5 separate regions of the Homo sapiens genome follow, and all the other regions are linked to region 4. Evidence: fine-mapped expression QTL. A gene starts in region 4. Each other region holds a variant in brackets. All regions are shown on one strand. Distances are between the middles of the regions. Region 1 holds the start of LOC105375336 (a long non-coding RNA gene). Region 2 overlaps LINC03006 (long intergenic non-protein coding RNA 3006). Region 3 has its middle 3.5 kb from the start of LINC03006. Region 4 holds the start of LINC03129 (long intergenic non-protein coding RNA 3129). Region 5 overlaps LINC03006 (long intergenic non-protein coding RNA 3006).

What was found. PIP is the estimated chance that this variant, and not a neighbour inherited with it, causes the effect.
Region 1: its variant is the best candidate, but not a certain one, in a credible set for the expression of LINC03129 in whole blood (GTEx, PIP 0.50).
Region 2: its variant is the best candidate, but not a certain one, in a credible set for the expression of LINC03129 in iPS cells (HipSci, PIP 0.52).
Region 3: its variant is the best candidate, but not a certain one, in a credible set for the expression of LINC03129 in lymphoblastoid cells (GEUVADIS, PIP 0.76).
Region 5: its variant is the best candidate, but not a certain one, in a credible set for the expression of LINC03129 in fibroblasts (GTEx, PIP 0.81).

The regions. Positions count from the first base shown.
Region 1 is chr7:66,041,849-66,047,735 of GRCh38, reverse strand. It overlaps LOC105375336 (a long non-coding RNA gene), which reads left to right and starts at 3,322. Exons shown (of 5, transcript XR_002956511.2): 1 at 3,322-3,446. RefSeq lists enhancers at 3,104-3,173, 3,494-3,583, 3,154-3,654. The variant A/G (reference allele first, on the strand shown) is at 3,433.
Region 2 is chr7:65,724,930-65,730,816 of GRCh38, reverse strand. It overlaps LINC03006 (long intergenic non-protein coding RNA 3006), which reads left to right. Exons shown (of 8, transcript NR_038378.4): 3 at 3,709-3,762. Among named protein-coding and RNA genes, the nearest start is that of SNORA22, 28 kb to the left of the region's middle. The variant A/G (reference allele first, on the strand shown) is at 2,702.
Region 3 is chr7:65,771,404-65,777,290 of GRCh38, reverse strand. It overlaps the pseudogene GTF2IP5. Among named protein-coding and RNA genes, the nearest start is that of LINC03006, 3.5 kb to the right of the region's middle. RefSeq lists enhancers at 900-1,399, 1,400-1,901. The variant AG/G (reference allele first, on the strand shown) is at 2,940.
Region 4 is chr7:65,836,341-65,842,227 of GRCh38, reverse strand. It overlaps LINC03129 (long intergenic non-protein coding RNA 3129), which reads right to left and starts at 2,524. Exons shown (of 1, transcript XR_002956508.2): 1 at 1-2,524. RefSeq lists an enhancer at 2,675-3,186.
Region 5 is chr7:65,713,602-65,719,488 of GRCh38, reverse strand. The region is part of intron 3 of LINC03006 (long intergenic non-protein coding RNA 3006); the gene reads left to right. It also overlaps the pseudogene INTS4P2. Among named protein-coding and RNA genes, the nearest start is that of SNORA22, 39 kb to the left of the region's middle. The variant G/C (reference allele first, on the strand shown) is at 3,356.

The sequences.
Region 1 (5,887 bases), 210 kb before region 4:
TTGGGACGCCTCTCCGCCTCATTAGTCATTCCCTCCCCTGCCCCATCGCGTCAAAACACAATGCATTGTGGTTATTTATGTCCAGAGCTGGCTCCCCAACTACGCTGTCAGCTAGCCAGTGCAGAGGGTGTGTGTTAGTCACATTTGTATCATCAGCCCCCGATGGGCCATGGCTACATACTTGTTGAATGAATAACACAAGGAGGAGCTTTAGCATTTCTTTGTGGGGCCCCATTTTCTCAACGAAGGTACAGGGAATTCTCCACACTAACCAGGCCAGCTAGATCTGGGTGGCATTTTATGCACTTTGTTGTTGTTGTTGTTGTTTTTTAATTTTTTATTTTTATTTTTTTTGAGACGGCATCTCGCTCTGTCGCCCAGGCTGGAGTGCAATGGCGTGATCTCGGCTCACTGCAACCTCTGCCTCCTGGGTTCAAGCGATTCTCCTGCCTCAGCCTCCCAAGTAGCTGAGACTACAGGCGACCGCCACCACGCCCAGCTAATTTTTATACTTTTAATAGAGACAGGGTTTCACCATGTTGGCCAGGATGGTCTCGATCTCTTGACCTTGTGGTCTGCCCTCCTCGGCCTCCCAAAGTGCTGGGATTACAGGTGTGAGCCACCGCGCCTGGCCGTTGTTATTGTTTTGCGATGGAGTCTTGCTCTGTCACCCAGGCTGGAGTGCAGTGGCGCGATCTGCAACCTCTGCCTCCTGGGTTCAGGCGATTCTCCTGCCTCAGCCTCCTGAGTAGCTGGGGTTACAGGTGCGAGCCACTGCGCTGGTTAATTTCTTTTTTTTCGTAAAGATGAGGTTTTGCCACGTTGCTCAGGCTGGTCTCAAACTGGGCTCAAGCGATCCACCTGCCTTCATCTTCCAGAGTGCTGGGATTACAGGTGTGGGCCGCCATGCTCAGCCGAGTAAAAAATGTTTAACAGCTTTATTAATATAGGATTCATATGCTGTACAATTTGCCATTTAAAGTGTACAACTCAATGTTTTCAGTATATTCACAGGGTTGTGCAACCACCACCGCCATCCATAATACTTTTAGGACATTTTCGTTTCCCAAAGAGAAGCTCCATATCTATTAGCAGTCACTGCCCATCCCTGCACCCAACCCCTCTCCTAGCCTTCTTTCTGTATCCATAGATTGGCCTCTTCTTGGACATTCTATATAAAGTGAATCATACGGTATGTATATATATTTTTAGAAGGAGTCTTGCTCTGTCGCCCAGGCTGGAGTGCCGTGGCATAATCTTGGCTCACCACAACCTCTGCCTCCCGGGTTCAAGCAATTTTCCTGCCTCAGCCTCCTAAGTAGCTAGGATTACAGGCGCCTGCCACCATGCCCGGCTAATTTTTGTTTTTTTAGCAGAGACGGGGTTTCACTATGTCGGCCAGGCTGGTCTCGAACTCCTGACCTCATGATCTGCCTGTCTCGGCCTCCCAAAGTGCTGGGATTACAGGCGTGAGCCACTGTGCCTGGCAATTTTTGTATTTTCAGTAGAGATGGAGTTTCACCATGTTGGCCAGGCTGGTCTTGAACTCCTGATCTCAGATGAACCACCCGCCTTGGCTTCCTGAAGTGCTAGGATTATAGGCATGAGCCACGTGGCCAGGTGATATGTATTATTTTGTGTGTGGCGTCTTTCACTTATTAATAGCGTCATGTTTTGGGAGGTTATCCATGTTGTAGCATGTATCTATCCATCTATCTATATGTATTTTTTGCAACAAGGTCTCTCACTCTGTAGGCTGGAATGCAGTGATATGATCATAGCTCCCTGCAGCCTCGACCTCCCGACTGAAGTGATTCTTCCACCTCAGCCTCCCCAGTACCTGAGACTACAAGTGCTCACCACCACACACCTGGCTAACTTTTTGTAGATAGGGGGTCTGGCTATGTTGCCCAGGCTGGTCTGGAACTCCTGGTCTCAAGAAATCCTGCCCCCGCCTCCCAAAGTATTGGGACCAAGCCTGGCCTCCTTTTTATTTTTAAATAGTTTTCCATTGTACAAATGTAGTACATTTTATTCATCCACTCACCAGTCTCTAGTTAATGCATCTGTTGTGTTTGTTCAGATTGACTGGGGTTCAATACCCACCGGACAAGTTCCTAGATGAGTGACTTTTGGTAAATCATAATCTCTCCAAGACTGCCTCAGTTTCTTCAATTATAAAATGTCAATAATAAAGGAATCTACTTCACAGAGAGTCATGGTTGTACTGCCACAGTAATTAATAAAGTGCCAGGCACTTTATGAGGATTATCTAACACATTTATTATTTACAAAGGAGGGAACAAAGGCCATTGCGGTGGCTCACACCTGTAATCCCAGCACTTTGGGAGGTGGAGGTGGGAGGATCACTTGAGGCCAGGAGTTCAAGACCAGCCTGGGCAACATAGAGACTCTCCCATCTCTACAAAAAAATAAAAGAAAAATTCTAGCTGACCCTTTGGACAGCAAATAATTTTTTTTTAGAAAATTAGCCAGAGGGGGCCAGAAGCGGTGGCTCACGTCTGTAATCCCAGCACTTTGAGAGGCCGAGGTGGGCGGATCACGAGGTCATGAGATCGAGACCATCCTGGCTAACACGGTGAAACCCCGTCTCTACTAAAAAAAAAAAAAAAAATAGCCGGGCAGGGTGGCCGGCGCCTGTAGTCCCAGCTACTCGGGAGGCTGAGGCAGGAGAATGGCGTGAACCTGGGAGGCAGAGCTTGCAGTGAGCCGAGATTGCGCCACTGCACTCCAGCCTGGGTGACAGAGCCAGACTCCGTCTCAAAAAAAGAAAAAAGAAAAAAAGAAAATTAGCCAGGTGGCCGGGCACGGTGGCTCATGCCTGTAATCCCATCACTTTGGGAGGCTGAGGCAGGTGGATCACGAGGTCAGGAGGTCAAGACCAGCCTGGCCAAGATGGTGAAACCCTGTCTCTAATAAAAAATACAAAAATCAGCCGGGCATGGTGGCGGGTGCCTGTAATCCCAGCTACTTGGGAGGCTGAGGCAGGGAATTGCTTGAACCCGGGAGGCAGAGGCTGCAGCGAACCGAGATCGCGCCACTGCACTACAGCCTGGGCGACAGAGCAAGACTCCGTCTCAAAACAAACAAACAAACAATAGAAAACACGAGATAATCCTGTCCGCAAACGCTCAGCAGTCTGAAGTCGGCCTGGGCGAAGGATACAGGAACACGCCCCCACCCCCCCCAACACCCCCACCCCCGAGAAAGGAGAACCTGCGGCGCGAGGTTCCGAGTCCGCCAAGCTCCCGGCATGAAGCGCGGCGCTCCTGGCTTGCACCTTGGCGTGCGGAGCTGGCACTTTGGCGCTGTTGGCGACGGTGGGGAGAGCTGTAGAGTGTGAAGTTCCTTGTCTGCTGGCAGCCAGAGGCGACGAGTCTGGACCTCATGGAAGTCCAGACTCTAGTCTGG[A/G]CGCGTCCCTTTTGGTACGCGAGGAGCCTAACAGTTGGACCTCTGAGAGCCGAGAGCCGTGGGGACTGGGCGACCCTCGTACGGAAGTGAGGGCAGGGGGCTGGCTGGCCCTGTCCGGGAGGGCCCCGGGATAGGGACAGGGACGAACGGGACTCAAGCCCCTCCGAACCTCCACAACCTGTGTCTGGGGTGCGGGGCCGAGCACCTCCGTGTCCGGCTGCCTTTCAATGTGCCCCCTCCTTCTCTCATTCATTTACCAGCGTTTCTGGGTCACAGTGCGGGGGTGGAGCCCAGCCTGGTATCCGACCCGGGACTTAGCAGGCTGTAAAGGCCTGAGTCTGTCCGCCCTGAAAGTAGGTGGAGGAGAGACGAATCAGGTCCAGGTAGAGCTCTGCTTGCCCCACCGGGCCCTGGGGAGCCCTCACTCCGAAGAGCTGCCCTCAGAGTTTGATGGGAACAGTCAACACTGTGAGGGAAGGGGCGAGTTTTTGGGTGGAGAAGGGAAGGATGTGAGCCAGGACTGGGACCGGAGAAACAGCACGGGGTGTGTGGGTGTGTACAGGCGAGGGTAAAAGGTTTTCTGACAGTTTAACTCCACGTGGTCTTTTCCGTGCTTGTTCGTTGCGCCTAGTGCAAATGGAAGTTTTTGCATCTACTCCGAATGTGGGTTTTATATGATTGATATTAACTTGTAGGTATTACCTAACTTGTGTTCTCTGTGAACTGACTGATACAGTTTCCTTCACGTTCTCTTGCCTCATGTTTAATGGTTATATGTACTATGGCATTTCAGATGTTTATATTTTTAATTAATTAATTTTGTTTTTTCTTAAGAAACAGAGTCTTGCTGTGTCCACCAGTGGGAGTGTGGTGGTGTAATCATGGTTCACTGCAGCCTCGACCTTCTGGACTCAAGCAATCCTGCTTCAGCCTCTCCGGTAGCTGGGACTGCAGGCCCACACCATCACTCACTGTTCATTTTTTTTTTTTTAAGTTTTTGTAGACAGAGGGTCTCACTACAGCCTAGGCTGGTCTCAAGGTGATACTGAGCTCAAGTGATCCTCCTGCCTTGTACTCCCAAAGTGCTGGGATTGCAGGTGTGAGCCACCTCACCTGGCTCCTTTTGAGTTTTTTTTTTTTATTGACGTAACATAATATGTCTGTGTAACTGAAATGAAAGGCTCATGAAACAATAATGTATGGCGTACACTCTCATATTGTTTATTTTTTTGTTAAAATGAATGGGGCCAAGCGTGTGGCTCATACCAGTAATGCCAGCACTTTGGGAAGCGTAGGCAGGAGGATCACTTGAGCCTGGGTGGTAGAGACCAGCCTGGGCAACATAGGGAGACCCTGTGTCTGCAAAAAATAAAAAAGTTAGCTGAGTGTGGTGGTTCATGCCTGTAGTCTCAGCTACTTACGAGGCTGAGATGGGAGGACCGCTTGATCCCAGGAGGCTGCAATGAGCTGAGATCCAGCCACTACATTCCTGCCAGAGTGGCAGAGCAAGCCTCTGTCTAAAAAAAAAATAAAAATAAAAATAAGTTGACCTACTGAATTAATTTTGCAACCTACTGATGGGATTTCATCTGCAACCTGAAAAACTATTAATATATTTTACTCTTGTATAAGCCATCATTACTAATTTTTCCCTACTTACTAGAGCATTTCCTGTGAGCATACAATCCTGCTTTAGTGTATTCATCTTAAGAAAATCCTGTCCTCACATACATGTCAGCCTCTTTTTTTTTTTTTTTTTTTTTTTGAGACGGAGTCTTGCTCTGTTGCCAGGCTGGAGTGCAGTGGCACCATCTTGTGTCACTGCAACCTCAGCCTCTTGGGTTCAAGCAATTTTCCTGCCTCAGCCTGCCGAGTAGCTGGGACTACAGGTGCATGCCGCCATGCCCAGCTTATTTTTTCTTTTTGGAATTTTAGTAGAGATGGGGTTTTACCATGTTGCCCAGGCTGGTCTCAAACTCTTGAGCTCAGGCAATCAGCCCAGCTCGGCTTCCCAAAGTGCTAGGATTACAGGTGTGAGCCACCACACCTGGCCACATGTCCACCTCTTACTCCATTTCTGCTTCCCATCCCAACAAAACTTCTTGAAAGTGCTGATTAGACCCTCATTCTCTCAACCATTCTGTTGGGCTTTCATCCTCACTGGTCTACAGAAATGACTGTTAACATTACCTGATCCAGTGGGGCGCAGTGGCTTACGCCTATAATCCCAGCATTTCAGGAGGCCAAGATGGGCCAATTGTCTGAGGTCAAGAGTTTGAGACCAGCCTGGTCAACATGGCGAAACCCCGTCTCTACTAAAGATACAAAAATTAGCCGGGTGTGATGGTGGGCACCTGTAATCTCAGCTACTCAGGAGGCTGAGGCAGGAGAATCACTTGAACTCGGGAGGCAGAGGTTGCAGTGAACCAGATTGTGCCACTGCACTGCAGCCTGG
Region 2 (5,887 bases), 110 kb after region 4:
TTTTCTTTACGTATGTTTGCATATTATTACTTTTTAAATATTTGATGACTGATATTGGAATGAGAATCAGGGAGGAAAATAATAAAATCCAATATTCCTGTATTACAGTGCCAGGTAGGTTTTCAATATCATGACCATAGTCCTGTCACTTTCATGTCGGTGAAACAAAGTAATCAGGACTTTTTAAAATTTTCAGATGATTTAATATATGCCTGATACCTACCTTCCTTCTTTTCTTTTTTGTTTTAAGAGACAGGGTCTCACTTGGTCACCCAGGCTGGAGTGCAGTGGTGCAATCATAGCTTATTGCAGTCGCAAACTCCTGAGCTCAAGTGATCCTCCCCTCAGCCTCCCAAGTAGCTGGGACTACAAGTATGCACCACCATGCCTGGCTCATTTATTTTATTTTTTGTACAGATGACGTCTCACTATGTTGCCCAGGCTGGTCTCAAACACCTGGGCTCAATCAATCCTCTCACCTCGGCCTCCCAAAGTACTGGGATTACAGGGGTGAGCCCCCATGCCCGGCCTTGTTTTATTTTATTTTTAAGAAAATACTTGGACTAGCTGGGCATGGTGGTTCACACCTGTAATCCCAGCACTTTGGGAGGCTGAGGCGAGCAGATCACCTGAGGTCAGGAGTTCAAGACCAGCCTGGCCAGCATGGTGAAACCCTGTCTACTAAAAATACAAAAAATTAGCTGGGCATGGTGGTGTGTGCCTATAATGCCAGCTCTCAGGAGGCTGAGGCAGGTGAATTGCTTGAACCTGGGAGGTGGAAATTGCAGTGAGCTAAGATCGCGCCACTGCACTCCAGCCTGGGCGACAAGAGTGAGACTCCATCTCAGGAAAAAAAAAAGAAAAAAAGAAAAAAAAAGAAAATATTTGGGCTAGAATTAGGGTGGAAGGGATCCTCAAGTTTGCCTAGACCAGCCTCTTATCAGAGACTTTTTTAAAGCCAGTGTTTTATTGCTATATAATTAAATGTAATAAAATACACTCTTTAAGTGTGCATTTTGATGAATTTTGACAAATTTATTCATACTTGTAATCATCACAATAACATTTCCATCACCCAGAAGGTTCCTAGGGCCTCTTTCCAGTCAGCCCCGTCCCAACCCCCAGCCCTACTGATCTGATCTTTGTTGTTAGGGCATTTGTATTTTCTAGTGTTTCATATAACTGAAACAGTATGTGCTCTTGTGTCTGGCTTCTTTCCATCGGTATAATTTTTTTTTTTTGAGATGGAGTTTCGCTCCTGTTGCCCAGGCTGCAGTGCAGTAGCGCAATCTCAGCTCACTGCAACATCTGCCTTCCGGGTTCAAGTGATTCTCCTGCCTCAGCTTCCTGAGTAGCTGGGATTACAAGCATGCGCCACCATGCCCAGATAATTTTGTATTTTTAGTAGAGACAGGGTTTCACCATGTTGGTTGGGCTGGTCACTGCTGACCTCAGGTAATCTGCCTGCCTTGGCCTCCCAAAGTGCTGGGATTACAGGTGTGAGCCACCGTGCCTGGCCTTCCATCGGTATAATTTTTTTTTTTTTTGAGACTGAGTCTTGCTCTGTCCCCCAGGCTGGAGTGCAGTGGCGCAATCTTGGCCCACTGCAACCTCTGCCCCCTGGGTTCAAGCGATTCGCCTGCCTCAGCCTCCTGAGTGGCTGGGACTACAGGCATGTGCCACCGTGCCCAGCTAATTTTTTGTATTTTTAGTAGAGACGGGGTTTCACCGTGTTAGCCAGGATGGTCTCAATCTCCTGATCTCGTGATCCACCTGCCTCAGCCTCCCAAAGTACTGGGATTACAGGCATGAGCCACCGCGCCCAGCCCTATTGGTATATTTTTTAAAATATTTATCCATGTTGTAGCATGTATCAGTAATTCATTTCTTTTTATTACTGAGTAGTGTTCCATCGTAGGGATATACCACAATTTGTTTAGCTATTTATCTGTTGGTGAATATTTGGGTTTTTTCTTGTGTTGGGCAGTCACAAATAAAGCTGCTATGAATATGTTTTCATTTCTCTTGGATAAAACTCCAAGACTGGGATTGCTGGGTGTCTTTTTAATTTTTATTTTTTGAGATGGAGTTTCACTCTTGCTGCCCAGGCTGGAGTGCAATGGCGCAATCTCGGCTCACCGCAACCTCTGCCTTCTGGGTTTAAGCAATTCTCCTGCCTCAGCCTCCCTAGTAGCTGGGATTACAGGCATGTGCCACCATGCCTGGAAATTTTGTATTTTTAGTAGAGACGGGGGTTTCACCATGTTGGCTAGGCTGGTTTTGAACTCCTGACCTCAGGTGATCCACCTGCCTCAGCCTCCCAAAGTGCTGGGATTACAGGCATGAGCCACCGCGCCCAGCCTTGGTGGGTCCTATGATAAGTATATGTTTAACTTTATAAGAAACTGCAGTCCCAGTGTGGTGGCTCACGGCTGTCATCTCAGCACTTTGGGAGGCCAGTGTGGGAGGATTCCTTGAGGCCATGAGTTCAATGTCAGCCTGGGCAACATAGCGAGACCCTGTTTCTACAAAAAATAAAAACTTAGCGGGGCATGGTGGTGTGCATCTGTAGTCCCCGCTACTCAGGAGGCTGAGGTAGGAGGATTGCTTAAGCCCAGGAGTTCTAGGCTGCAGTGGGCTATGATTGCACTGCTGCACTCCAGCCTGGGTGACAGAGCAAGACCCTGTCTCAGACATGCGC[A/G]CACACACACACACACACACACACACACACACACACACACACACAAACTGTTGTCTTTGCTTCCTTGTAATTGGGCAGCAGATCCTTTCTCTGATTCATCTTGGAATGCTGTTGTCTCTGTCCCCTGTATTTATATATTTATTTATTTTTGAGATGGAGTCTCGCTCTATCACCCAGGCTGCAGAGCAGAGACACGATCTCGGCTCATTGCAAACTCCACCTCTGGCGTTCAAGTAATTCTCCTGCCTCAGCCTCCCGAGTAGCTGGGACCACAGGCATGTGCCACCACATCCGGTGAATTTTTTTTTCTTTTGAAACGGAGTGTCTCTCTATTGCCCAGGCTGGAGTGCAGTGGCGTGATCTGGGCTTACTGCAACATCTGCCCCCTGGGTTCAGCAATTCTCCTGCCTCAGCCTCCCAAATAGCTGGGCTTACAGGCACATGCTACTACCACTTGGCTAATATCTTTGTATTTTTAGTAGCGAGAGGGTTTCACCATGTTGGCCACGCTTGTCTCAGACTCCTGATCTCAAGTGATCCACCAGCCTTGGCCTCCCAGTGCTGGGATTACAGGCGTGAGGCACTGCGCCCGCCTGAGTCTGCTTCTGTGTCTATTCATTTAGTTCTCCCAAGAGATTCTCTTTCCCTCTCCCTCTGCCTCTCTCTTTTCTTTGTACTCTGCTAATCAGGTTTACATGATTTCCTATCAGACCTGAATCTTGCAGAATTGAAGCCACAGAAAAGAATATGCTGACTCTGCAGTGCTTGAAGGGGGTAAAACTAAAGCATTACCTAGAGGAAGCAGTCTTAGGAAATTTTGCCTCTGACTCGTTTTTGTGACAGTCCCACCAGGAGAGAGTGAAGCCAGTCTCCCTCTTTCCTGTTTTGTGTCTGGACTTCAATGTTCATTTCCTCATTCTCTCTTTCTAGGATCTTGCTCTTGCAGAATCTACAGGTCTTTCTTGAAGAAATCTGTAGTCATAATTTTGTGCTCCATTTTTATTTAGGGGAGGAACAGGAAGAGAAGAGTGTGGCCTCCTAGAAATCTAGCACGGAGAAAGGTAAGTCTGATTTGTCTTTTTTTGGTCTTGTTTTGTTTTTTTTGCTGTCATTGTAATTTTTTTTATGCATTCGACTATTATACGTTATACTGTTATATTATGTTGGCCAGACTGGTCTTGAACTCCTGACCTCGTGATACTCAGCCTCCCAAAGTGCTGGGATTACAGGAGTGAACCACCAAGCCCGGCTTGACCTCTTGGCTTTTACCAAAGGATGTTTGCTTCTGAGGAAGCTGGAAGCTGCAGCCACAATGTGCCTTTGCAGGGGAGCCTGAGAGCCACAGGTAAGGACAACTGAGTTAGACAGGAGGGATGGGGCCTAGGGGGAGGGCAGAGTGCATCACATTCCCCCACCCAGACCCACAGGCCACGGCATCACAGCCCCATGCAAGTCCCGACTCCTGTCTCTCTGATTGTGTGATTCCCAGTTATTCCCATTTCCCTAACAGATAAACCTCCCAATGGGTTCAATGCATACACTTTTATTAAATCTCACTCTGTCACCCAGGCTGGAGGGCAGTGGTGTGATCTCGGCTCACTGCAAGCTCCGCTTTACAGGTTCAAGCGATTCTCTTCAGCCTCCTGAGTAGCTGGGACTACAGGCATGCACCACCAGGCCTGGCTAATTTTTTTGTATTTTTAGCAGAAATAGGGTTTCACCATGTTGGTCAGGCTGATCATGAACTCCTGACCTCAAATGACCCACCTGCCTCGGCCTCCCAAAGTGCTGGGATCACCTGCCCACTCCCTTGGTGAGGAGCCCCCTAGGGCACCTCCACCTCCTGGAGCACAAATGTTGTTGAGATGAGCAGCTTGAGACATGGTATGGACCTATGCGGAGGTGTCCCTAGACAATGATGGCATCAGAGTGAGAGGCTGGATGAGGATGTGTCTGGGGGAGCTTCGAGGTGCTGTGATGTGTAAGAGATCATTAATTCCAGGATGCCACCCCAAGGAGAATATGCATGGACCAAAGATGAGGGGTCCCCAGGAGGGTGAACCAATAGTAAGGCCCCCAGATTCCATCCCTAGCCAGGCTCCCTGCTAAGTGGCAATTAGAAAAATTCCTCTTTACAGAAAACAGAGCATCAATTAGGTCCCCAATTACAGAGCCAGTCCTCTACCCTCTAGTGAAAGCTTCCAGTGGACAAGAAAAGCTTGAGAAAGCCAGAAGGAATAGGAACCCACAGCTCAGGCCGGGCCGAGGCTTCATAAATCAAAAGGACATTTTTTTTTTTTGAGAGATAAGGTCTCACTCCATCACCCAGGCTGGTGTGCAGTGACCCAATCATGGCTCACTGCAGCCTTGAACTCGTGAGCTCAAGTGATCCTCCCAGCTCAGCCTCCTGAGTAGCTGGGACCACAGGTGCACACCACCATGCCTTGCTAACTTTTATTTTTATTTTTGAGACACAGTCTCGCTCTGTCACCCAGGCTGGAGTGCAATGGTGCATTCTTGGCTCACTGCAACCTCCGCCTCCTGGGTTCAAGTGACCCTCCTGCCTCAGCCTCCCAAGTAGCTGGAATTACAGGTGCATGCCACCAGGCCCAGCTAATTTTTGTATTTTTATAGAGACAGTGTTTCACCATGTTGGCCAGGCTGGTCTTGAACTCCTGACCTCAGGTGATCCGCCCACCTCAGCCTCCCAAAGTGCTGAGATTACAGGCGTGAGCTACCGTACCCAGCCCATGGCTAATTTTTAAACTTTTTTGTAGAGATGGAGTCTCACTATGTTGCCCAGGCTGGTCTCAAGCTCCTGGCTTCAAGCAGTCCTCCCACCTCAGCCTCCCAAAGTGCTGGGATTACAGGCATGAGCCACCATGCCCAGCCGCAGAAGGGCAATTATTACACAGTGACAGTGGAAGGAAGAGAGAGACACAGTCGGTGGATGGTGGGAAGATAAGAACATTCACTCTGAGGGCTTCTAGTAATGTTGGAGAAGTGAGTGTCAGCTGAGCAGAAGGGAGGGAGGGAAGGAAGCACAGGAGGTTTGAGGAGAGAGAGAGAGGAAGTATGAAATCGCTGTTGCAAACCTCCTGGGGGAATGTAGAGGGGTTGCCAGGAAGCCCACTTGAAGTCTGAATTTAAAGTGAAAGTCCAGCCAGGCCAGGTGCGGTGGCTCAC
Region 3 (5,887 bases), 65 kb after region 4:
CTGTCAGACAATTCTTCAACTTGTTTACATAGATCAGCGATATGATTATTCCACTTCTCTGAAAACTGAGCAAAAGTTGATTCTCAATAATATGTCCCTATGTCAGAGCAGCAATAATATATAATGACTTATTTCCTATATTTTACATACTAACAGTCCATATCATTTTACTGCTTTCGAAAACATTTTTCCCTTTTTTGGTGGTTCTTAGAATTAGTTTAATAGGAGACTACAAGAGAAGTTTTAAAGTTTAATGCCTTTTTTTAGCCTTTAATTTCTGAAAAGGAGGGCAGAAAAGATCAATCAAATTAAACACGACAACAGGGAGGCCACAATGAGGAGGTCTCCAGAGGCCTTTTCGCAAACTTCCTAAAACATGTCTCAGCTGTGTGGAAATAAGGCTTTACAGCAGCTGGGTGCAGTGGTGCAGGCCTGTAATCCTAGCACTTTGAGAGCAGAGGTGGGCAGATTATCACTTCGAGCTCCGGGCAACAAAGCAAAATCCCCCCTCCCCTCCCCAACCCCCTGCCTCCGCCCCCGTCTATGCCAAAAATATAAAACTTAGCCAGACATGGTGGCAGGTGCCTGTAGTCCCAGCTACTCAGGAGGTTGAGGCAGGAGAATCACTTGAACCCAGGAGGCGGACGTTGCAGTGAGCCGAGGCCATGCCACTGCCAGCCTGGGTGACAGAGCAAGACTCCGTCTCAAAAAAGAAAAAAAAAAAAGATTAAGTAAGAGGGACACCAGACCTTAAAAATACAAGTTTAAGAGGGACCCTGACTCAGCGTGGTGGCTCATGCCTGGGACTTTGGGAGGCCGAGGCGGGCGGGTCACGAAGTCAAGGGATCTAGACCATCCTGGCCAACATGGTGAAACCCTATCTCTACTAAAAATACAAAAAATTAGCTGAGAGTGGTAGGTGCGCATCTGTAGTCCCAGCTACTCAGGAGGCTGAGGCAGGAGAATTGCGTGAACCCAGCAGGCGGAGGTTGCAGTGAGCTGAGGTTGGGCCACTGCACTCCAGCCTGGGCAACAGAGCAAGACTCTATTGAGGCAAGGTTTCTCATTCTCAGGTCCGAGGGGTTCAATAACTGGGCCCTTAGGGAGGTGTGAGCCCCCTGAAACGATGCAAGGTTTTGTGTGGAGAGTGTGCACATGCGTTTCCGGGAAAACAGCCCACAGTTCTCATTCTCAGCAGGCTCCACACTCAAAAAAGGTTAGACTCTTGCTACAGAGCTGTGGGAGCAGCTAGGTGAGGGGCCTGCCAAGGGCACTCTGGGGACTACCTGGGCAGTCTTGAGCCCACCTGGGCAGTCCTGAGCCCACTGTCCCCTAGGCAGGCTGCGCTGCTTGGTATTTGCAGAGCTGAGGGGGTGGGGCATGCGGGACTGTGAAATCGCCCTGAGATGACCCACAGCACTCAGCTGGGAAGTGAGGGGTGTGTATCCTGCAGCATCCTCCATCCCTAGGGCCATGGGGCCAGGAGAACTGACCCTTGCAGCAAGTGAAAAGCCTATCATTGACTCCCTCCCTGGCCATGCAGACAATGAACCAAAGGCACTCAAATCAAGTAAATGCCTTGGTCTCTGTGACCGACGTGACCAGTAGGCATTCCCAGGTGCAGGGAAGGTCCTGACACCAAGATATGCACCTGGTTGCCTGAGGAAAGCGAAAGGACTATCCAAGGGGTTGGGGCTGAGCTGGGTGTGGAGTGGTCCTTGTGGGTCATGGTGAGTGGGAGGGGGAGCAGCATGAGCCAGGCCTCGGGGCAGGAGGACAACCAGGAGATGGCCTGGAAAAAGTGCTGGACCCACGAGGGTTCAAGGCTGGCCAGAGAGGGAGGTGGGATAGGCTGGGAAGTCCCGAGGTCTGAAGATTGGCCCTGGCAGGCAGAAACCAGGAAAGGTGGGCAGTTACCTGCACCCTGGGGGCCAGATGCATCCTTAGCCTAGAGCAGGTGCCAAGATTTCTGGCTCTGGGTGTGACCTAATTCTGGGGAAAAGCCCCAACCCCCACCAGGACCACCTGCCCCCCAAACTACTTCAGATGCTGAGCCCAAGCCAGGAGCAGGAAGCTGGACTGATGCCTAGGGTAATCCCGACAAAGTCCCTGACTCCCCCCAGCTATGGGGCTGAAGGGGAATTACAGCCCAAACCCCAGATGCTGGCTCTCAAACTAACCCTGAGCCCTCAGTGCCCAAAGGGAGACTCAATCAGCACACTTTCCAGATGGGGAAACGGGCTCAGAGAAGTGCAAGAGCCTTGCCCAGTGCCCCAGACCAGGACTCTAGGCCCAGAGTGTTCTTTTGTCACTGTGTCCAGAGGGTAGCAGCTGCTCTGATATAGCCACCTGAGCCTGGCAACTTTCTCCAACTTTGGAAGCCCAGGAGCATGACCTGTGCCCACAGATGCACCTGGCATGAGGTGCACCCAGAGGGACAGAGGCAGATGAGTTTTGCCTCCTCCACTGGATTGTGAAGGCCTCCAAGGAGACAAGGATCTGCTTGAGAAGGCAGCAGATAGTCAGCAACCTGGGGTGGTTTAACTCTGGATGGATCTGCAGTGCCTGGATGGGACCTGGCTCAGACAGAGCTCAGTTCTGCAGGTCACTGAGGCATGGAAAGGTCACAGCTACCAAGTGTAGGAGTCTGGATTCAAAGCCAACAGCGTGACTCCAAAGTCCCTGCCCTAGCCCCTGGACCACCCACCTCTCGGAGTCACCCTTGCAAGCTCATCAGATGTTCAGGCCAGCAGCACAACCAGCCAGGGCCAGGGAAACTTGGGGAGCCTCATTCCAACATAATCCTTGCACCCTTGCCCCTCACCATCTTTCTTCCTGCGTTAACCTCACCCCCTACACAGAGCCTGGGCCACTTAACTTGGCATCAAACAGATGCCTCAATAAATCAGAGTCTGATCTTCTCGGAAAAAAAAAAAAAA[AG/G]ACTTAACAGATATACAGTTGCAAGTTAGAATGTTAAAGAACATAAGCATACAACAACTTAATGTACATATAAATTCAATATGTAGCCAATCATTGTGACTATGACACAACAGAATATTAACATACTATTTTCAAAATGTATACAAGCTTAATGATCTATTTATATTCAAAATATGAATCATCAACATAATTTGCCATTAATATCTCATTCAGTCCCTTCACAGGACACATGATCCACTGGGAGTTAACACAATAGCAGCTGGCAGGCAGTGACACACAGCAAAAACGAAAACCAACAGGTGAAATAGTTCTGAAATAAAGAAGGTTTTAAAGCTAAGAGAAACCATTGAATTCCTAAGTCATTAGGACTAATTTTGAGCCAACTAATTAATATGAGATGAAACAATGTCCTATGCTTTGGTAAATTCAAACCATGTTTAAACAATGTCTATAATGGGACTTTCAAAAAGCTCCTGGCTTTACAAAGGTGAGATTATAACATAGTAATACATGCTAAAGCATTTCCCCCTGCAGATGAGCATGTTGTAACTTTCATCAGCCACATTGAGAGTCCAGAAGATGAGGGAAAAGGTTGTGGATTTCACTGAGAACTTACCAGAGTTGAACTCCCTCACTTTCCGTTGCCCATCATTGGCAGGTTCCGGAACTGGTGGCTGTGGTAGTTTGTTGGTCTTTGGTCTCTTAGAAGGTGGAGAATCATCATCATGTTGAAAAAGAAAATGGTCATTACTGAAGGAACAATTCTAGGTTACAGCCACCTCCTGGTAAATTCCCAACATTCAAAAGGTGAGCGGCTTTAAAGCTATTTTGAATATTAATAATTATTCCTGTACTATGATCTTCAGCATACATTTTTCTAGTTACATTTGAAATTTTATTCTTTTGGGATGTGCTCAAGTGAATACTGCTTTATCCTCTGTCTTGCTTCATTACTTTTTAGTTTGCTTCATTTGAATCATCATTATAAATCTCCCCTTGCCCTCAAATAACTCTGAAATTGCTGCCAATAACTATATTGTTTTAAGGCTTTTCAGAAAAAACTTTCAACAAAGACAGCCACCTAAAGTTATACAAATATAGAAGAAAGGGAATATAATAAAGCTTAGATTGGAAAAAATATTTAAGCTTATACAAAATTCAAACATACATAAACAAGGGAAGCTGGATAATTTTATGTTCAAATACTTTTAACAAGTGCAAAATGTATATGCTTAAAGAAATAGGGTTGGCCGGGCATGTTGGCTTATGCCTGTAATTCCAACACTTTAGGAGGCCAAGGCAGGCAGATCACTTGAGGTCAGGAATTCAAGACCATCCTGGCCAACATGGTGAAACCCCATCTCTACTAAAAATACAAAAATTAGGCTGGGCGCGGTGGCTCACACCTGTCACTTTGGGAAGCTGAGGTGGCCGGATCACCTGAGGTAGGGAGTTCAAGACCAGCCTGACCAACATGGAGAAACCCTGTCTCTACTAAAAATACAAAGTTAGCCAGGCGTGGTGGCACATGCCTGTAATCCCAGCTACTAGGGAGGCTGAGGCAGGAGAATCGCTTGAACCCGGGAGGTGGAGGTTGCAGTAAGCCGAGATGGCGACATTGCACTCTAGCCTGGGCAACAAGAGCGAACTCCGTCTCAAAAACAAAAACAAAAAGATATTAGCCAGATATGGTGGCGCCTGTAATCCCAGTTATTCAGGAAGCTGAGGCAGGAGAATCGCTTGAACCCAGGAGGCGGTAGTTATGGTGAGCAGAGATCATGCCACTGCACTCCAGCCCAGGTAACAGAGCAAGACCCTGTCTCAAAAAAAATAGGGCTACATTATTTATGAAACAGATACTGTTGACTCAGTCACCAGAAAGCGAAGGTCGCCAACATCAGACAAATTCACTGGAGGACCTATGTATGTGCTTTGAAAGACAACACTGTTTTGGTAAAGAATACTGTATTTCAGAAAAACATAATCATATTAACAACTAATAACACTGTAAAATGCTGATGTGTTGAATGCTACTTTAGAAAAACATGTTCAAGTCTAGGAAAAAGATTTCCGATAGAAAACTACGTATCAATTACCTAGCTAGCTAGCTATCTAGAGACAAGGTTTCATTCTATTGCTCAGGATGGAGAGCAGTGGGATGACCATAGCTCACTGCAGCCTTCAGCTCCTGGCCTCAAGTTATCCTCCTGCCTCAGACTCTTAAGTAGTGGGGCCACAGGTGGACACAGGTACACCTGGCTTTTTTTGTTTGTTTTTTATAAACAGGGTTTCACTACATGGCCCAGGCTGGTCTCAAGCTCTGGAGTCTTGCTCTGTCGCCCAGACTGGGGTGCAGTGATGCTTCTCGGCTCACTGCAACCTCCGCCTCCTGGGTTCAAGAGACTCTCCTGTCTTAGCCTCCTGAGTAGCTGGGACTACAGGCATGCACCACCACGCCCGGCTAATTTTGTATTTTTAGTAGAGATGGGGTTTCTCCATGTTGGTCAGGCTGGTCTTGAACTCCCAACCTCAGGTGATCGGCCCGCCTCAGCTTCCCAAAGTGCTGAGATTACAGGTGTGAGCCACCGCGCCCAGCCTAATTTTTGTATTTTTTTGTAGAGACTGGGTTTCACCATATTGGCAAGGATGGTCTCAAACTCCTGACCTCAGGTGATCCACCCGCCTCGGCCTCCCAAAGTGTTGGGATTACAGGCGTGAGCCACCGCACTTTCTTATGTTATTAAATAGCCTAGCCCAGGAGGGTACGGTGGCTCACGCCTGTAATCCCAACAACTCTAAAGGCCAAGGTGAGAAGATCGCTTGAACCCAGGAGTTCGAGACCGGCCCGGGCAACATAGCAAGACCCCCCCCATCTCTACGGAAGATACAAAAATTAGGCCAAGCGTGCACCGCGCCTGGCTAATCTTTGTATCTTTCGTAGAGACGG
Region 4 (5,887 bases):
GAGGCAACTGTGAGGCAAGAGCAAAACCAGAAGAGGCTACCATGAGGCAAAAGATGGGCCTTGAGTGGCCACTGTGAGGCAGAAGATGGGCCAGACGAGGCCATTGTGAGGCAGGAGCTGGTGTAAGAGAGACCACCATGAGACAGGAGCTGGGTCTTGGGAGGCAGATCTGAGGTAGGAGATGGGCCTAGTGAGGCCACTGTGAAAAAGGAGCTGGGCCTAGAGAGGCCAGTGTGAGGCAGAAGCTGGGCCGGTTGAGGCTGCCAGAAGTCAGATAGGAACATGGCCGGGGAAGGCCACCATGAGGCAAGAGCTGGGCCTGGAAAGCCTGCTGCGAGGCAGGAGAAAAGCCTGGAGAGGCCATTGTCAGGCAGGAGCTGGGCCTGTTTAGGCTGCCACGAGGCTGACAGTAGGCCTGGAGAGCTTGATTTGAGAAAATTTTGAGCCTACAAAGGCCACCAGGAGCTGGGCAGAAGCTGAGTCCAAGGAGGTTGTTGTGAGGCAGGAGTTGGGCCTGTAGACACAGCAGGGAGGAAGAGCTCGGCCTGCAGAGGATGCCAGGAGGCAGCAACTGGGCCTAAAGAGGCCGACTTGAGGAAGTTCTGGGCCTGGAGAGGCCGCCAAAAGGGAAAAACTGGGCCTGGAAAGGCCGTTGTAAGGAATGAGCGGGGCCTAAAGAGGTCATTGAAAGGCAGGAGCTGGGCTTGTCGAAGCTGCCAAAAGGCAGGAGTTTTGGACTGGGGAGGCTACAGTGAGGCAAGAGCTGGGTGTGGAGAGTCCGCTGTGAGGTAGAGGCTGGGCCTGTACAGACCTTAAGAAGGCAGGAGCTGGGCCTGGAGAGGCTGACTTGAGTTCAAGTTCTGGGCCTGAAGAGGCCACCAAGTCAAAAGCAGGGCCTGAGAAGGCCACCAAGAGGCATGAGCTGGGCCTGGACAGGCTGATGGGAGGAAGTTTTGCACCTGGAGAGGCCACCAAAAGGCAGGAGCTGGGCCTGGAAAAACCAACTGGAGGACGATTTGGGTCTTCAGAGGCCACCAGGAGGCAGGAGCTGGGAAAGAAGAGGCCAATTTGAGGATGATTTGGGCCTGCAGAGGTTGCTGGGAGGAAGAGCTGGGCCTGGAGAGGCTGACTGGGGGAAGTTCTGGGCCTGGAGTGGCCAAAAAGCGAAAGCTAGGCCTGGAAAGGCCACAGTGAGGCATGAGCGTGGCCTACAAAGGCCATTGGGAGGCAGCAGCTAGGCCTGTAGAGGCTGCCGAAAGGCAGGAACCTGGTCAGAGGAGGCCATGGTGAGGCAAGAGGTGGGACTGGAAGGTGCACTGTGAGGTAGAGGCCAACAACAGGCAAAAGCTGGGCCTGGAGAGATGACAAGAGGAATGAGCTGGGCCTAAACAGGCCAGTATGAGAAAGGACCTCGGCCTAGAGAGGCCAGTGTGAGGCAGGAGCTGGGCCTGGACAGGTTGCCAGAGGCATCAACTGGACCTAAACAAGCCATTGTGAGGGAGGAGCTAGGCCTGTTGAGGCTGCTGGGAGGCAGGCGGGAACTTGGCCCACGGAAGCCACTGTGAGGCAAGAGATGGGCCTGGAGAGGGAGCTAAGAGGCAAGAGCAGGGCCTGCAGAGGCTGTTCTCAAGCCAGAGCTGGGTCTGTACAGGCCACTGCAAGGCAGAAGGTGGGCCTAAAGAGCTTGACTTGAGGAAGTTTTGGGCCTACAAAGGCCGGCAGTAGTTGGGCAGGAGCTGAGCCATAAAAGGTTGTTGTGAGGCAGGAGTTGGTCTTGTAGATACAGCCAGGAGGAAGAGCTAGGCCTGGAGAGAATGCCGGGAGGCAGCAACTGGGCCTGGAGAGGCCGACTTGAGGAAGTTTTGGGCCTGGAGATGATGTCCCGGGACAGGAGCTGGGCCTGGAGAGGCCACTGTGAGGCATGAGCTGGGCGTAGAGAGGCCAGTGTGTGGCAGGACCTGGGCCTGTCCAGGCTGCCAGGAAATAGGTGGAAACTTGGCCAGGGAAGGTTGCCATGAGACAAAAGTTGGGCCTGGAAAAATCATCGTGAGGTATGAGCTTGGCCTAAAGAGCCATTGGGTGGCAGGAGCTGGGTGTGTAGAGGCTGCTGAAAGGCAGGCGCTTGGCTTGTGGGGGGCCACGGTGAGGCAGATGCTGGGCCTGGAGAATCTGCTGTGAGGCAGATATTGGGCCCGTAGAGGCTGACAGAAGGCAGGAGCTGGGCCTGGAGAGGCTGCCAGGACACAAAAGCTGGGCCTGAAGAGGCTGCCAAGAGGCATGAGCTGGGCCTAAAGAGACCAGTGTGACAAGAGATCGGCCTGGAGAGGCCGACTTGAGGAAGATTTTGGCCTAGAGAGTCTGTCAGGGGCAGGAACTGGGCCTGGAGAGGCCACCGTGAGGCATGAACTGGGCCTAATGATGCCAGTGTGAGGCAGGAGCTGGGCCTGTCAAGGCTGCTGGGAGGTAGGCAGGAACTTGGCCAGGGATGACCTCCGTGAAGCAAGAGCTGGGCCTGGAAAGGCCATTGTCATGCAGGAGCTGGGCCTATCCAGGCTACCAAGAGGCAGAAGATTGTGCTGGTGAGCTTGACGTGAGGAAGTTTTGGGCCTACAAAGGCCTCCAGGAGCTGGGCAGGAGCTGAGCCAAAAGAGATTGTTGTGAGGCAGGAGGTGGGCCTGGAGATTCAGCTAGGAGGAAGAACTGGGCCTGGAGAGGCTCACTTGTGGAAGTTCTGTGACTAAAGAGGTTGCAAAAAGGCAAAAGCTGGGCCGGAATGGCCACCATGAGGCAGGAGCTTGGCCTAGAGAGGCCACTGGGAGGCAGGAGCTAGGCCTGTAGAGGCTGCCGAAAGGCAGGAGCTTTGCCTGGGAGGCTGTGGTGAGGCAGATACTGGGCCTGGAAAGTCTGCTGTGAGGCAGAGGTTGGGCCTGTAGAGGCCAATGGGAGGCAGGAGTTTGGGCTGAAATGGCAGACTTGAGAAAGTTCTCAGTCTGGAGAAGCCACCGGGATGCGGGAGCTGGGCCTGGAGAGGCCACTGAGAGGCATGAGCTGTGCCTAAAGAGGCCAGTGTTAGGCAGGAGCTGTGCCTGAAGAGGCGACTTGAGGAAGTTTTGGGCCTGGACAGCCCGTCGGAGGCAGGAGCTGGGCCTGGAGAGGCTGCCGTGAGGCATGAGCTGGGCGTAATGAGGTTAGTGTGAGGCAGGACCTGGGCCTGTCGAGGCTGCCGGGAGGCAGGTAGAAACTTGTTCAGGGAAGACCTCCGTGAGGCAAAAGCTGGGCCTGGAGAGTCAGCTGGGAGGCAAGAGCTGGGCCTGGAGATGCTGTTGTCACACAGGAGCTGGGCCTGTCCAGGCCATTGGGAGGCAGAAGGTGGGTCTGGAGAGCTTGACTTGAGGCAGTTTTGGGCCTACAAAGGCCACCAGGAGCTGGGCAGGAGCTGAACCAAAAGAGGTTGTTGTGAGGCAGGAGCTGGGCCTCCAGGCACAGCCAGGAGAAACCTCAGCCTTTAGAGGCCACCTGGAGGCAGCAGCTGGGTCTGGAGAGGCCAACGGAAGAAGGCAGGAGCTTGGCCTTGAGAGGCTGACTTATGGACATTTTGGGCCTGTATAGGCTGCCCAGAGGCAGGAGCTCGGACTAAAGAGACTGTTGTATGGCAGGAGCTGGGCCTGTACAGGCCACTGGGAGGCAAAAGGTGGGCCTCAAGAGTCCACTGTAAAACAGGAGCTGAGTCTTGGAAGGTGGCTGTGAGGCAAAAGATGGCCCTTGGGAGGCTGATGAGAGGCAGTAGCTGGGCCTGGTGAGGTTGACTTGAGAACCTTCTCTCTGGGCCTGGAGAGAAGGCTGGGAGGCAGGAGTTGGGCCTAAAGAGGCCATTGTAATGATGGAGCTGGGCCTGTGGGGGCTGCCATGAGGCAGCAGCCTCATCTGTGGAGACTGCCATGAGGTAGGGTATGGGCCTAAATAGGCCATTGTGAGCCACAAGCTTGGCCCGTAGAGGCCGACTGGAGAAAGTTCTGGACCTGGAGAGGCTGCCGGGAGGCAGGAGCTGAGCCAAAAGATTCAAGCGCATTACATTTATTAGGCACTTTATTTCCATTATTACATTGTAGTATATAATGAAATAATTATAGAACTCACCATAATGTAGAATCAGTGGACATGTTAAGCTTATTTTCCTGCAACAAGATGGTCCCATCTGAATTGATGGAAGAAAGTGACAGATAATCAGGTATTAGATTCTCATAGGGACAGCACAACCCAGATCTCTCGCATGCACGGTTTGCATAGGATGCATGCTCCTATGAGAATCTAATGCTGCTGCTGATCTGAGAGAAGGCGGAGCTCAGGCGGGAATGTGAGCAATGGGGAGTGGCTGTAAATACAGATGCAGCTTCCCTCACTCAACACCACTCACCTCCTGCTGTGTGGCTCCTTACAGCTCCATGGCTCAGGGGTTGGGGACCCCTGCTGAAGTGCATCCAAAAGGACCATTCCCACACCAGTCTTCATAGCGGTCAAGTGCAGCAACCACTTAGCTCCCAAGGCATGTGCCTCAGCTGGCATTTCATCACAATCAACAGTAAGCAGTAGCTTGAGTCATTGTGAGGTCACTTCCTGGAAATCACCAGCATTCCGTTTCCCATTGGCAAGGAGCTCAGCACTGCCCCTTGGATAACCAAACCTATCCCCAAATCCCATCTGTGTGAGTCTATCTCCAGGGACCCTTCTTAGCATATTAGAGTCCAACCAGGAGACATAAACCACTCAAAAGTTTAAAGTGGTAAATTTAATACAGAGAATTATTCATTGTAACAGGGGAACAGCATAATGAGAGACTGGCTAGCACAAAGTAAAGAGAACTCCAGAGAATATAGGACTAGCCCAGGCCAGGCATGGTGGCTCATGCCTGAAATTCCAGCAATTTAAGAAGCCAACACAGGAGGACTGATTGAGGCCGGGAGCTAGAGATTGGCCTGGACAACACAGTGAGACCCTGTCTCTATCCAAAAAAAGAAAAAAATTAGCTGGGAGTGGTGGTGCACACTTGTAGTCCCAGCTACTCAGGAAGCTGAAGTAAGAGAATAGTTTGAGCCTGGGAGGTCAAGGCTACAGTGAGTCATGATTATGCCACTACAGTCAAGCCTGGGTGACACAGCAAGACCCCGTCTCAAACAAAACAACAAAACGACAACAACAACAACCATTTACAGACAGAAAAGAAATAGAGCTAATAAGCTAAGGGAAGATGCTGAAATGTGACCAAGTAATATGCGGTATTTTATCTATTTAAAATAATCAAACAAAAAATAACTTATTAAATTATAATACCCTGTGCAGGCAAAGGTGCAGTGAAATGGACACTTTCTTATACTAGGAGGGGTGTTTAAATTGTACATAGTCTTCCAAGGTAAAGGTTGGCAATTTTTTAAAATAATAGAGACAGGGTCTCACCTTACTGCCTCCTCCAACTCTTGGCCTCAAGCAATCCTCCTGTCTTAGCCTCCAAAGGGCTGGGATTATAGCCAGGAGGCACCCAAAACCTTGTCAATGTACATCAAGGGCAATGAGAATGCCCATTCACCATGACTCACAGTAATCTTACTTCTGGAAATACCTTGGGGAGACAATTCAATCTAAACAAAAGGTCATCTGCATAAACACAGTGAAATTCTGGGAGTAATTGAAAACAGAGTGGTTAAGTTAAGTAAGAAACAGTTATAAGAAATTATACTATGGTATTTATAGGCACCTGGTAAAAGGTCAGTTAATGTTAGCTGCTACTTTTTTGTTGCTTTGAGACAGGGTCTCACTCTGTCACCCAGGCTGGAGTGCAGAGGCCTGATCACGACTCACTGCAGTCTCAACCTCCTTGGACTCAAGTGATCTT
Region 5 (5,887 bases), 120 kb after region 4:
CCTGCATGTGGTAGAGGTGCTTTGAAAGGGTTTTTTAGGAGACAGTCTAGGAGATGACCCATCCTGTGCATGTCTACTCACCAAACCCTGTTTTATAATTGCCTGCCCATTTGTATGTCTCTGAATGAAACTGTGTACACCCCGAGAGGAAGAACTGTGATATATTTACCTTGGCAACCACAGCACTTAGTGCATGCAATAGAGTAAACACAATTGCACAAATGGATGGAAGGAAGGATGAATGAGTGGACAGATGGATGAATGAAGGAGTAGTACTCTTTGTGGGGCTTAACTGCACTGTCTGAATTGATTAGTGTCTCTACTACATTTCTCATGTGTCTCTATTACATCTATGTAACTTGGGAAAGAATATTTCCTAGTAATCGCTTTTTCCCATCCATAAATTTTATCTGCCAGCTGACTGACTCACAGCCTGAAAGGAACTTGTTTATTATAGTTTTCTGTAATAAAAGACCAAATCTTAACGTCACATTACAAGATTAGAAAAGGTCTTATCATTTACTGAACCCTTACTGGGTCCTGGGGGCTTTAAATTCATTATCTCTTTATGTCAACTCCTCCTATTTGTCAGTTGTAGAATCTGAGACTCAGAGTTTAAAGTAACTTGCTTCAAACCACACTCAGCAGTAGTTGAGATTCAAGCCTAGGTTCTTTCCCACAGAGGCTCATTTCTTCTCCTGTCCCAGTTTCTGTCCCTCAAGTAGAGACTATAGGGGTACTAACATTAAATACTTCAACACAAGGTCAGTCTAGAAGCTCCACGAGGACCCAAACCCGACAGACCTGGACCTTAACAGTGTTCTGAGGATCCTGCACATGCTCCAGGGTTGCATCAACATCCAGGGCAACCACCAACCCAGAGTTAAACTGCAAAGGGTTGTCTGACTCGCCCGCTGGCTCAATGATGGTGGCTGAGGCTTTGTGGATCTGTAAGCCAGAGGAAAATCCTATGATTCTAAAGCCAGGTCATTCCTGGACAAGAAAACACATCTTTTTTCTGTCTCCTTATCTAATGAGTGGGCATGTGGGAGCCACTCAGAGGAAGAGCCTAGCCCAGCTGCTCCATTGGTCAAAGAAGATCACCAAGGTAAAGATTTTTGACCGTCTGGACAGATTTGGCCTACAGGGGCCAAATAGACCCTGACCTGCTCTGGAAGTGGGAGATGCAGAAAGGCACTCTGTCGCAGCATGGTCTGTAGAATTTTGACCACTTCTGCAGGTTTGGATGTCATGAGTCGGGGCATAAGGTCAAGGAGTTTGTCCACAAAGCTGTCCTGCAAGTGGGGCAAATCAGCGATGAAATACCTGGAGGAACAAACAGAAGCAACTGACTCATTCAACTGTGCACACATTCACCACAGGCTGGGCCCCAGACACCTACCAAACCCTGAAGTAGGAAGAATGATGAAGTGAGAAGAGCTTGCAATTTACGACCAAGATAGACTGGTACCTATACAATCATGCCTCAGTCACATGATCATCAGAAAGGCCTCTGTTTATTGATAACCATTATGTGCCAGGCATACTCTTAAGTGTTTTACATGATCTTATTTAACTCCCAGCAATCCTATGCATCATTAGAATTTTTATTTTCATATTATAGATTCATTAATTATTTTAACAAATACATTTTTAAGACCTACGAAGCACCAAGCACTATTTTAGGTTCTGGAAACACAGTGAACAAAAGAGAACAAAACGATTGCTTCAATGGAGCTTACATTCAAGTGGCAGAAATACTGAGACTCAGAGGGGATGATGCCTCACTGAGGCTCAGAAAAGTTAAGTACGTTACTCCTGTCTCAGACTGATCCAATTTTGGGCCTCGTGCCAGTGGATAGTCAAAAAATATCTCACTGAGGAGGTGATATCTGTGCAGGAACTCAAAGGATGAATTAAGAACATCAGATGAAGAACTTTGGGGATTCAGAGCTATCATCTTCCCAAAAATCTTTTCAACCCAACTGTGCAAAAACAGACTCTCTACTTTAAAGAATCTAAAGCCAAAAGTAAGGCATGAACTTATTTCAGATTCAAAACTAGAATTTATTTTTTATTTTCTTTTTGGGAAGGAGTCTCGCGCTATTGCCCGGGCTGGTGTGCAATGGCGTGATGTCGGCTCACTGGAACCTCCGCCTCCTGTGTTCAAGCAATTCTCCTGCCTCAGCCTCCCGAGTGGCTGGGATTACAGCTGCCCACCACCACGCCCTACTAATTTTTTGTATTTTTTAGTAGAGACAGGGTTTCATTATGTTGGCCAGGCTGGTCTCGAACTCCTGACCTCATGATCCACCCGCCTCAGCCTCCCAAAGTGCTGGGATTACAGGCGTGAGCCACCGCGCCCAGCCTCAAAACTAGGATCTTAAAAAGCTAAGCTAGATGGTACAGTTTGCTAGACAGCATTACCTGCTGGTGAAGGTAGCGTTGCAACTCAGCCCTGTAAGAAGCTATCATCACCCCAATGACAAGTACAGAGTCACAAAAACCTCAGGTTTGGTGAACTTCATGAGGGCAGAGACAATGAGCGGAAGAAATGAAACAGACTTCATCAGTGCTTTAAGATCCTATGTCTTCTCCCAGTATTATTCTGCCAGCATACCAGAAGTCTGGTCACTCCCTTGACTCCTATTTCTTCATCAAGCTTTCCATTCAACTACTGCATGTGCTTTAACAGATTCATTCCATATAAAACTCTGAAAAAATATATGTATTCTACAAAATAAAATTTACCTATAGAATTACAAAACAATTGTTTGTAGATTACAGAGAAATATGCAAGTATAAGAACAGTGTGGGCCTGGTGCAGTGGTTCACACCTGTAATCCCAATACTTCAGGAGGCAGAGGCAGGAGGATCTCTTGAAGCCAGGAGTTTGAGACCAGCCTGAGCAACACAGCAAGACCCCATCTCTAAAAAAAATATTAAAAATTATCCAGGCATGGTGGCACATGCCTGTAGTCCTAGCTACTCAGGAGTCTGAAGTAGGATGATAGCTTTAGCCCAGGAGTTCAAGGGTGCAGTGAGCTGTGCCAGTCTGGGTGACAGAGTGAGACCCTGTCTCAAAAAATAATAATGAGGTCAGACGCGGTGGTGGCTCATGCCTGTAATCCCAGCACTTTGGGAGGCCAAGGCAGGCAGATCACTTGAGGTCAGGAGTTAGAGACCAGCCTGGCCAACATGATGAAACCCCGTCTCTACTAAAAATACAAAAATTAGCCAGGTGTGGTGGCAGGCACCTGTAGTCCCAACTACTTGGGAGGCTGAGGCAGAAGAATCACTTGAACCCAGGAGGCGGAGGCTGCAATGAGCCAAGACTGCGCCACTGCACTCCAGC[G/C]TGGGTGACAGAGCAAGACTCTGTCTCAAATAAATAAATAAATAAATAAATAAATAAATAAATAAGAATGGTGTGAACGAACAGTGTTGAAAAAAACAGATGACTAATGATTTTTTTCAACAAACGTATTTACACGTTTTCTTCATATTACTTGTGTTTTTATGGCCTAGCTGAGTGCTAAATGCAAGTGATTCCTGGTAGGTTTAGTTTTGAAGCTCCAACTTCAAAGAAGTTTCTATAATATTAAGGAAAAAAACCAAATTAGTTTTTTTTTCCTAATTTAAGGTTAACGACATGGCCACAGATGATAGCCTGGCTGCACAAGCTAAACCAAGGAATGTGATTTGTGATTGTTCCTATTGCCTGCAAGTGCTATACTCCGTGTAACCAAGATTTTATAAGCCGGAAGAGTTATAAAATACTTACCTCTGAAAAAAGTCTACTTCCTGTAAAAATTTTTCACACATCCCAAATAAGGGGTAAAGTCTGTAGAAAAGAAACGTAAAATAATTTGCTTGTGAAATCTGCAAACTGAGGTGGACCAAAGTCCCAGAAACCTGAGCCTAAATTAAAGGAAAATTAGTATATTACACTATAAAAACGATCTCTAAAAGTAACAGAAGACTCCTAATGGACCTGGGGGAAACACCTGTCGGGATCCCAAGACCTGATTAAACCACTGCAGTGCCCATTAAGCTCAAAGAATATTAAAAATCAAAGACTATCACAGGCTACACTTGGCACTAGACTCACTACGAATACAGAAGAGAAGCATAGCATGTGGGCAGTACAGTGTCAAGTTCCCCTTCTTCAGGAGTCCTTGCTTCATTAACATCTCAGCTAGCATGGTCTCTATACCTATCTGATTTAGATCTCATCTCCTTGCACATGAGCTGTCAGCATTGGGATGAAAGCTCCCAGATAGCTGTGTGGACTGCTGCAAGATCTACCCAGTTTCAAGAATCACTGCACTCAATGAAGCCTACAGCCATTGTATCGGCATCTGGAAACTAGTTCATTTATATTTCCTTCTGGTCTACATGCAATTTACTCAGAGATCATTTTTTCCATAGCGGTATAGCCTACTAATGTAGTTGATACTGTAAGGGCTCCAAGAAACATACCTAAAAAGTTAACTAAATTCCTATGCGAGAGGTGAAAAGGTTTTGCTACTATTTTGCCGACAGACATGGATGGTGTTCCTTCCTCTCTATCTTGAATTACTTGGCCTCACAGTACTTGAGAACATTCCATTTCAGTAAAAAGTTATTGCATACCTAAATAATCCAGGCAACATGCTAGGTCAATGTGACTTACTAAGTTTTGACCTTTGTATATTTTCTTCCTATTTCTTGTATGTAATTTCTGCATGAAATTTCCCACTTGTTTTCTTTAATATATTATTCATTGGATGAATAAAAGTTCCCACCAAGATAAAACAAATACTCTTTCCTTATGTAAAAATATGTAAGAGAATGATGTCAAAGTTTAGTCTTTTTATTAAAATATAGTCTCCATGAGTAGACTTTGTATTCTTCATCATATATTTCCTAGCACAGGCAGCATTCAATAAGTATTTGCTGATGAACAAAAAATGGGGCCGGGGGTAGATGGCAAATGGAAACCTACTCTGGAAGCAACATTCATTCTAATTCTTTTCCTGAAAAAAAAAAAAAAAACAACAAAAAAAAGTAGCACTTGAAAGTTTTTAAACTAATCTTCTACCAGAAATGGAAGTGAAATTTCATAGTGAGGTTACCCACCAAACACCACAAGGAGTGAGAGGGCTAGAAGAGAGAATTCCAGCCAAGCAAGGGCACAAAGGAAAGCAATTTGGCCAAGCAGTGACATTTCCTCATTTGTTTGCCTGATTATATAGAGAATCATCTTGGAGAGACTCCAGGAAGTAAAATACAAAAAGATTTGGGAACTCTCCCCAGACGTCAAAAAAGAGCAGGCATCCTCATCAACAGGCCATATACATGAAGTAGGCCTCTAATACTAAGATCTCCTACTTTTCCTTTGGTGTGAGGGAAGGAAAGCTATGAAAGTGAGGCTCACTCGGGGGCTAACAATCATTAAAGAATACAAATTACCAATTTAAACTAGCCTAGACTTTCACTGTAAGTAGGCAAAGACAATGGAAAATGACTAGGTGTTATAAATGACAATCAGGAGCTGTAAAGGAGACCAAGCAGTCCTCAAAAAGAGTTAAGTCAAGGCAAGAAAGCACAGAAAACTTTTTAAAAAATTCTAATCAACAACCTCAGTGAGAGTTAACAGGGATTTAAAAGGATATTACATTGACAAAGCAAGAGAAACTGCTACAGAAACAGCAGATGACAAGAAGAGAAACTATACAGCAGAAAAAAAAGGAAAAAAATAGTAGAGAAGCACACTTGGAAATAAAACACATAATAATGAAATCAAACTCAACAGTTGAGAACAGCGGAATCAACAACAATGTAAACTGAAATGATAAACTAAAAAGAGCATATTAAAGAATTTACTGGCCAGGCACAGTGGCTCATG